Homo sapiens: one gene and its partner. The protein of the gene in region 2 purifies or fractionates together with the protein of the main gene of each other region. This does not show direct contact. Each region holds a gene or a part of one and is shown on either strand. Other genes may lie near its edges. The genes, in order: UGT2B7 and PLAG1.

The links.
Region 1: the proteins of PLAG1 (region 2) and UGT2B7 purify together in Homo sapiens (co-immunoprecipitation; one study listed by IntAct). This does not show direct contact.

The regions. Positions count from the first base shown.
Region 1 is NC_000004.12:69,095,107-69,099,581, reverse strand, and holds the start of UGT2B7 (UDP-glucuronosyltransferase 2B7 isoform 1 precursor), read right to left. Parts: upstream 3,109-4,475; 5' UTR 3,062-3,108; coding exon 2,341-3,061; intron 1,043-2,340; coding exon 894-1,042; intron 1-893. UniProt on the Homo sapiens protein: UDP-glucuronosyltransferase (UGT) that catalyzes phase II biotransformation reactions in which lipophilic substrates are conjugated with glucuronic acid to increase the metabolite's water solubility, thereby facilitating excretion into either the urine or bile.
Region 2 is NC_000008.11:56,201,107-56,204,936, forward strand, and holds part of PLAG1 (zinc finger protein PLAG1), read right to left. Parts: intron 1-3,830. UniProt on the Homo sapiens protein: Transcription factor whose activation results in up-regulation of target genes, such as IGFII, leading to uncontrolled cell proliferation: when overexpressed in cultured cells, higher proliferation rate and transformation are observed.

The DNA of each region.
Region 1 (4,475 bases), on a different chromosome or scaffold from region 2:
CGACTTTTCCATCATCTGCTACCTGAATCCTGCAAAATTTCCTGAATGGTTGGCTCTTTACAGTCTGGCCCTCCTGCAATTTAATCCATTGAATATCTTGAAAGCTCTCCTTTAAAAAGAGAATCTTTTCATATATTTTTATTTCTTAATCTTTTTAGTAGTTTTTCAATGTGCTTAATAAATATTTCAACTCCTAATACGTATCTGGCTCTAATTTGCCTCTCACCATCATCCGAGTCTTAGTCTCTCCCTGCAAACTAAACTTGAGGACTTGAGAACTGTCCTGACCACTTTACCTGCTTCTTTTTTTTTTTTTTTTTTTTTGTCTGTCTCTCCCCGTCATTCTTTTACCTATTCCTGCATATTGTTCAGCTCTCATCTTACTAATCAGTGACTGCAGGATACTTTCTATTATCTCCACTGATGCTTTCTTGGTATTGCGTTTTTCCTTCAGATAATAGTTTTTATATAATTTTTATTACTTGCACATATTCTATCTTTTGAAGTAGAATGTAAGGTATGTGGGGACAGAAACTGTGTCTATTTTTTTCTCTGAAAATTCTGCACTTACCTGTGTTTTGTGCTAATCCCTTTGTAAATATTATTTGATTGGATGACCAATACCTTCTTAGGTATTGCATAATGAAGACTTTAATTTAACCAACCCTATTTTCAAAGTCTCCTTAGTATTCCTCTCTATTTGTAATACTCATAAAACTCATATACGTGTGATGGTATTAACGTGCACATGAGTTTCTAATTGGTATCTGCTTTACCCCACCCATTTCCCATCTTTCTTTCAGTGTAAGTCAAACACTCTGAAAGAAGACTATAGAATCATTTCTACTGAAAATTCAAAGCCAACAAAATAAAACCAACAAAAGTATGTTTACCTTAGGCAGGGGTTTGGCAGGTTTGCAGTGGAGTCCTCCAACAAAATCAACATTTGGTAAGAGTGGATATGGAAACTGAAAATTCCAGGAGTTTCGAATAAGCCATACGTCAGCTTTCCCCATTGTCTCAGATAATGTAGTGGGTCTTCCTGACAGGAATAGAAAAAAAAAAGGTGGATGACACAAGATAATTACTTTAGGTAAATTTCTGAAAGGGGTTAGAATAATGTAGGCAAAAATGTAGGCAAATATCTGTGCTTTGAAAAATATATACACATATTCATATATAGATATAATTTAATTTTATGTATTACATATTTTGCCCATGTGTATTTATAAGAAAGACAAAGTAGTAGGAGAATTGTGAGGTTAAGCTACATCTCTAATGTCGCATCAGTATGCTCATAATCATAAACAATTATTAAAATGAGCCATAGAAAGTTAAACAGAAAATTTCTTTTCTCTTAAAGCTTCAATAGTAGCATACGGACATTTAAACAACTCTTTGAGCTCCATAATCAATTAATTCTACTCTACCCATAAAAATAATTTTCTAAGAAATAGTCTAGTTTACACAACTCATTAAGCTAATTCTTTTATCTTTGGTTCAAGTGAACTGTGGACTATGTTGAGAGTATGGCTGAAATCCTTGTACCAACTACTCTTTTAGATTCAAGCTAAGATCTTAATAATATTTTTAAGTAAATATATTTGTACATTATAGCTAGAAATTTTTGAGAAATTATTGAAATAAAAATTTGTACTCAACCTTAATTTGTCTCATATGTTCTAATAAAGAGACATAGTTTCAAAAAACTATGTAGATATAACAACCTTCACACTTCAACAAGATGATTGGACTTTAAATTAATGATTTCCAATTCTTTCGTGAAAGAGTATAGAAACATTAGAAACTTCAAATTGCCCTTATTGATTTTTGCATCTGAGGTATAGACATTATCTCTCTTTACTGTGAAGGAAACCTTCTGGTAATATGGGAACATCTTTTGATTTCTAAATAAGAAAACAAGTTTACAAGAAAAAACAATTTCTGCAGTTATATAGATAGTTGTAGAAAAATGTGTAACTACTCATTCTAAATCTATGCATTCAGTAAGAAGTTATTTGATGGATTTTACTGTTTTTAAGATGTAAAACAATGTATAGTAAAACAGATGTGTAATTGCTTAAAGTCTTAGATGCACTAATGTATAGGTTTATGATTTCCTGGGGTGTTCTGTGTGAGTGATGGCCACAGGGTTTTAACTGACCCTGTAATTTAAGCTTTTCTATAATATTTGTGAGATTAATAGATCATCTTGTATTTTTGTTTTATAAATTCACTTACCAAAACCCCACTACCCTGACTTTATGGCTTTATATAAGCTCTGCTTCAAAGACACAAATAAGTTAGAGCTTCATGTTACTGATTGAAAAAAATACTTACCTAGAACTTCACTATAAAACTGATCCCACTTCTTCATGTCAAATATTTCGAACCAAAAGTCAAAGTAAAGCACATAGATCATATTTTTTACCCTCTCCATGAAAGTCATTTGATCAGTTAATTCTGACATAACAACAGGTACGTAGGAAGGAGGGAAAATAAATCCTCCACTATGCTTTTCAAAAGTGTAGCCAGGAGAGAAGCTGAGACTGTACACAAAGGGTATGTTAAATAGCTCAGCCAGCAGCTCACTACAGGGAAAAATAGCATCTGCAAAAATGACGTCAAATCTTGACTCTTGTACTTTTTTCATAAATTTCTTATTTGAAACTACATCTTTACAGAACTTTCTAGTTATGTCACCAAATATTGACATGATTTCCTGTACTTGTGAAAAATATAACCAAAATGTATCTTTTGGAAGGTCTGACCATCTCTTAATCTGTTGCATGATGAAATTCTCCAACTCAGTTTTAGTTAAAGATGTGGGATAAATTTCAATTTTAAGAGCGGATGAGTTGTTGGGATCAAAAAGAATGGAAGCTGAAGATGCCAGTACAGTCACCTCATGACCTCTCTGAATAAGCTCATCCAGGATTGTCTTTATATTCATCCAATGGCTGTATTCTGCTGCCCACACCAGCACCTTTCCACAATTCCCAGAGCTAAAGCAAAAGCTCAGTTGTATTAGCAAAATTACTGAAGTCCATTTCACAGACATCCTGGTGCAATGCAATGCTTGTTTTCCAGTTGCTGTTCCTTTCTGTCATTTCTCATGGTTATGTCCAAAGATAAATTAGCCAAGAAGTTAAAATGTAACCCTTATAAGTCAAAGTACATACAATATCATTAAATCAACAGTCTGAGCATGTGGATGGCAAAGAGACAAATGAAGGTAAATGATCTGTTCACACAGATGTGATTAATTTCCCTTTTATGTTTATGAGTGCTATCCTTCAGCTAATATCAAGGATCTTGTATGGACATGCCATCTGTCTTATGCAATATATTTTAGAAGAGTGTCCAGAACAGTAGCAGTGACAGATCTTGTTTCTGCAGTCCATTTGACACAAAACTAAAGATTAAATGACTAAACATGGTCCACATATTTTTGTAAACTTTGTTGACATGTAATTTAAATATCATACTATTTATCAATTATTGTGTAAAATTTAATGTTTCATAGTATATTCACAGAATTGTGCATCTACCATAACAATCAGTTGGAGAGCCCTTTTATCTCCCCAAAATAAGCCCTATAGTCCTTAGCCTTTTTCTCTCCACCCCTAGTTTCTGCATTTCCCCTGTCCTAGGTAATTGCTAATTGAATTTCTATCTCTATAGATTTGCCTATTCTGGACAATTTTTAATGCATAGAATCATACAATATGTGGTATTTTGTGACTGGCTTCTTTTATGTAACATAATATTTTAAAGGTTCATTTATGATATAGCGTATACATGTTGATTCTTACAACCATCATGTAAGATATTGAGAGTTTCAAGATGACACTATCTTTTTAAACTTTGTTAAAGTAATCAAAGATAAAGAAAGAAAAAGAGAAAAGTAAACCAAGCTTGTAGTACATTCAGCATTAATCATTAGGTTAGCTTGTTCTCCGACTCACTTCCTCACAGTTATTTGGCTGTTGTCCTAGAATTATGCAGACCCTGTTACAAGACTATAGTTCCTCTTAATCCTTCTATAAATATTAACTTAAACATTATGAAATGATCAACTTTCCTTTTGAGGTATTCCTTCAGGTCCAGCATACTGCTAAAACTACTGACTCGGCTGGTCTGAAGGATCTCACTGATGTCAGCTGATCTGAAAGACTTCACTGATGCCAGCTGATCTAGAGGACCCCACAAGGAACTGACTCAGCAAATAATGTAGTTTCTTGTTCTGATGACTTTACCCTATTACCCTGACTAATCAATTACCCAAATTTTCCAGCCTATCACCATCTATGATCTCCTTAAAACCTCCAACCCAGAACTCCTTGAGGAGCTGGATTTAGGGTTCTCTTCTTATCTCCTTGCTCAGTGCCCTGCAATTATTAAACTCCTTCTTTGCTGCCAAATCTGACGTCTCAGTGTAATTGGACTATTATTGGACAGTAAGCATATGAAAC
Region 2 (3,830 bases):
AAACTTGGAATTCTTTAGTAATTGGGACAATACCATATACTGTATTAAATTCTTTTAACTCTCCTGGGTGGGAAGATCATCAGTGGCATTTTTAGCTTGGAAGCCTAACATCTAAAATTAACCAAGCTAAGCAATATTTTCAATTGTCATCATGTAGAATTACATTGTTTAATGAAATAAGACCATTCAAAAATTTGGGGAAAAATGTTTATTCATTATTCTGAAATCAGACAGCTTTGCAACAAATTTAAGGCCAAAATTAATAAAATTACCTATTTAAGATCCTTATTATGAGACAAAGTTTATACTTATATCTTTAGAAAAATCTCCTTTAGCTTAATAAGTTGATAAATTTCCCCAATTCCTTATGTACAGCTTAAAGATAAGTTGACATTTAGCACTTTCTAACTCGAATTACTCTGTCAACTCTATGCCTGAAATCTTCATTTTGTAAGAATGTACAATTTTCTTAAATATATGAACTTCAATATGGACATAATTTAGGTTTATACTACCCAAATAACATATAATAATTAGCTGCTATAGGTCTGTCCATTCTAAAGATTTACTTACAAAAAGTAACAGAATTCCTTCTGAAATCATTATTGCTTCTTGCATACACATTATCCCTGCAATTCCTATCTCATGAGATTGCTGTGAAAACTAAATGAGATAATATAGGTAAAAGCAAAGACTGATAGGTAGCCAAAGTATTTTATGGCTGAAGCATAGCATTAATACTCAAAATATTTTGAGAGTTATAAAAGTCATGTTGCTAACGATTCAGGGAATAATTCAACCAATCAAGTTGAGTTTCTTTTTCTTTTAAACATAAACAGTTTCTTTTTGGGCTCTTTTTTTTTTTTTTTGTTTTTACTAGGAAAAACCTTTAACTAAAACTTGGCTGAAATAAAAAATTTTGTAACATCTCATCTTTAAAGGATCAGAACCTCTGCTTTCTTATTTGATCAATTTCAAGCTAGATTTAAAATACTAGTCTAATTCTACTTTATTTCAGTGAAATGATGGATGAGATAAAGTTACTTATCTTTAAAATTTTCTGAATTTTATACTTAGCAGTTGAAGACCACACTTCTGAACTGTGCAACTTGAAAAAGATCTAGATTTTAGTACAGCATTAAACACAGAACCAGAGTATACCACAATGACTTTTATATTAATTTTAATACATATGCTCATTTTCCAGAAGTGATTTTGGATGTTATTGCTTGATTTTAAAAAGCACAGAAAACTAGTCTACGTAAGGCACTGCCATACACAGGGTGGCAGCACTGAGAACCAAACACATGCAAACAGCAAGAACACTTGGAAGGGCCAATGGAAGCACACAAGTGTGCCTGAAATCTGATTAGGACAAACTTAGACATGCGGGTATTTTGGCTTCAATTAAAAAATTTCTTTTAATTCTGGAAGAGTATCATGCATTGTACAAAAGCTATTATGAGTCAGCCTCTGAATGTGATCAATTGCACTTCTCCCACAACAAACTGCTTTCTCTACTTTTCCCTGCACTGAGGGATAAAAGGTGAACTAAGAATAATTAAATTCAAGCACCACATGAGATCTAATGTTTAAGTAGAGCAACTGTATCTCTGGTATACAGCTGAAAAGATAACCCAGGCTATGATTAAAAGTGCTCCTAGATAGGAATTTAAGAATAACATGATCTTGAGAACATATTAAATAAAAGCAGTTACAGAAGTAAAGTTTTAAAATAACTGTCTGTCACCAATCTCTCAGCAGCAATATTGTGAGATAGGAAGTACAGACATTAGTTTATACTTTCCCAAAAGAAGGGCTTTTAAGAAAAACATCTGTAACTGTACTTAAAAAATTGAAATACCATTAAAAGTATTAAATGCTTGATAATTAAGAATTTAAATACAACAGACATTCAACCAAGTACTGACCTATTTGTCACTACTTTTCTTTGAAGAATAATGAAAATAATTGAATATATCACGATCTTTAAGTAATTTTGACCACATATTTGAAAAAAAACTAATAAATTTATTAACTGTTAAAGGCTAGCTGCTTAGGAACGTCTACAGAATTTTATATGTGTATTTTGTACTTTGTTTACAAATTTCTAGGCATAAAAAGTAGATTCAGATACAAAAACAACTATCTGAATTAAAATTATGTATATTTCAGCAGTAAATCAAGTTATTCAGTTTAATATTTAAAGCTTTCATTCTATGTCTAATTAAGCCTGTTACTTGATAGTTTACTTTCATTTTGATTTGGGTAAGCAAATATGACAATATATTTTAATACAGCATCTTTCAAAACGTAATATATGCCAAATTATTGCTGAAAAAATGTCTTACACCTTTTTCTTAAAAATAAACTGAGCAAATTACATTAAAAGCTAGACCTGATAGATGTGCTTAACATACAGCATAGTTAAATCAGTTATTTGTTTGTATGACAGTAGCCCTGAGAATGCTCACGTTTTATGAAGCAAGATAAAGAAAAACATAAAATGTCACTAACTCCTGTTTGGTGTGCCTGATCATCACAGAAACTTTCCTTCTTGGAAACATTTTAAAAATCTTCCAAATAACTAGTAGGGCTGCTTCCACCACTCTTGGTGTAATTAACCTATTTTATTATACATCTATTTCTATTCTAATGCTAAAATCCTATGAAATTGAATAGTAAACATCAAGTAAAATGCTACCAACATTAGAAGAGAAAAATCTAGATTGAAATTTATACAATTAAATTACCTCAGTCTATGACAAATTAGCAAAACATATGAAGAACATTTTCTCAGATTTATTTAGAAACAATTTTAAAGGTGCAAGGAAAACAAATTCATGTTTGAGGTGTAGCTTATTTATAATAGGATATGCTGGTTATATTAATATTTGTTTTTAGGCTTATAATAGGTTATAAGGTCATAACAATCCAAATATATAAAGTGACAACTGTTCCATAAGTTGCAGTTGTGTAACACAGAATAATGGAGCTAATTTCTCTTCAATGGAATGCAGTGCTTAAATGAATTATGTTTAGGAAATACAGAAGATAGCTTAAGAAAAGGAAAGTGCTCATATATAATAAAACAGCATTTTCCCTTCATTGTCCAAAGTTGATAAAAATAAAACCTACTTATTGTAACTCTCTCAGGGTATGAAGAAAAGTGACGTGAGCTCTATGTAACTCCAGCATTAAGACAATACAAGAAAAAATCAAGTTACCGAGAAAATCTGGTAGACTAAAATCCAACCGGTGTTATTTTGAAACTGTACACTTGAACTATCTTAAGTTTCCAGGTTTAATTTCTTAAAATTCTCATGATCAAGAACAATTCAATAAATATTTACTAATGTATCTTCAAAGGAATAAAATTGATTATGACACCTTCCAATTTTGCCTTTGAGCCAAAGGGGCTAAATTCCTTATTTGCTAATTGATTTCTAGTTTAACAGTCTCCAAAAATGTATTTTAAAGTTAAAGGGCTCTAATGTCTAACCACTGGTTAAAGAGAGATAATTTTTTAAAAACTGATATGGCAGCCTTTAACATATAGCACTTATTCTGAGAATATTATCACATTCAGAAACAAAAAGATAGGAAATCACAATCAATATATATATGTGCAATTCCAATATTGGTCTGCAATAATAATTCAAATATTTAATGAGTGAAAGGCTAAAAGGGGGCTCTCATTCTCAAAAAAGAAGAGTTCAAGACTCTCTAATGGCACATCCTTCACAATCTGTAAAGGATTCTGTTGCCTTTTAAGAAAAGATGCCCCCTCCTCTCTCAAAATATTTTCTAATAGTAAAGGCAACTTCTAT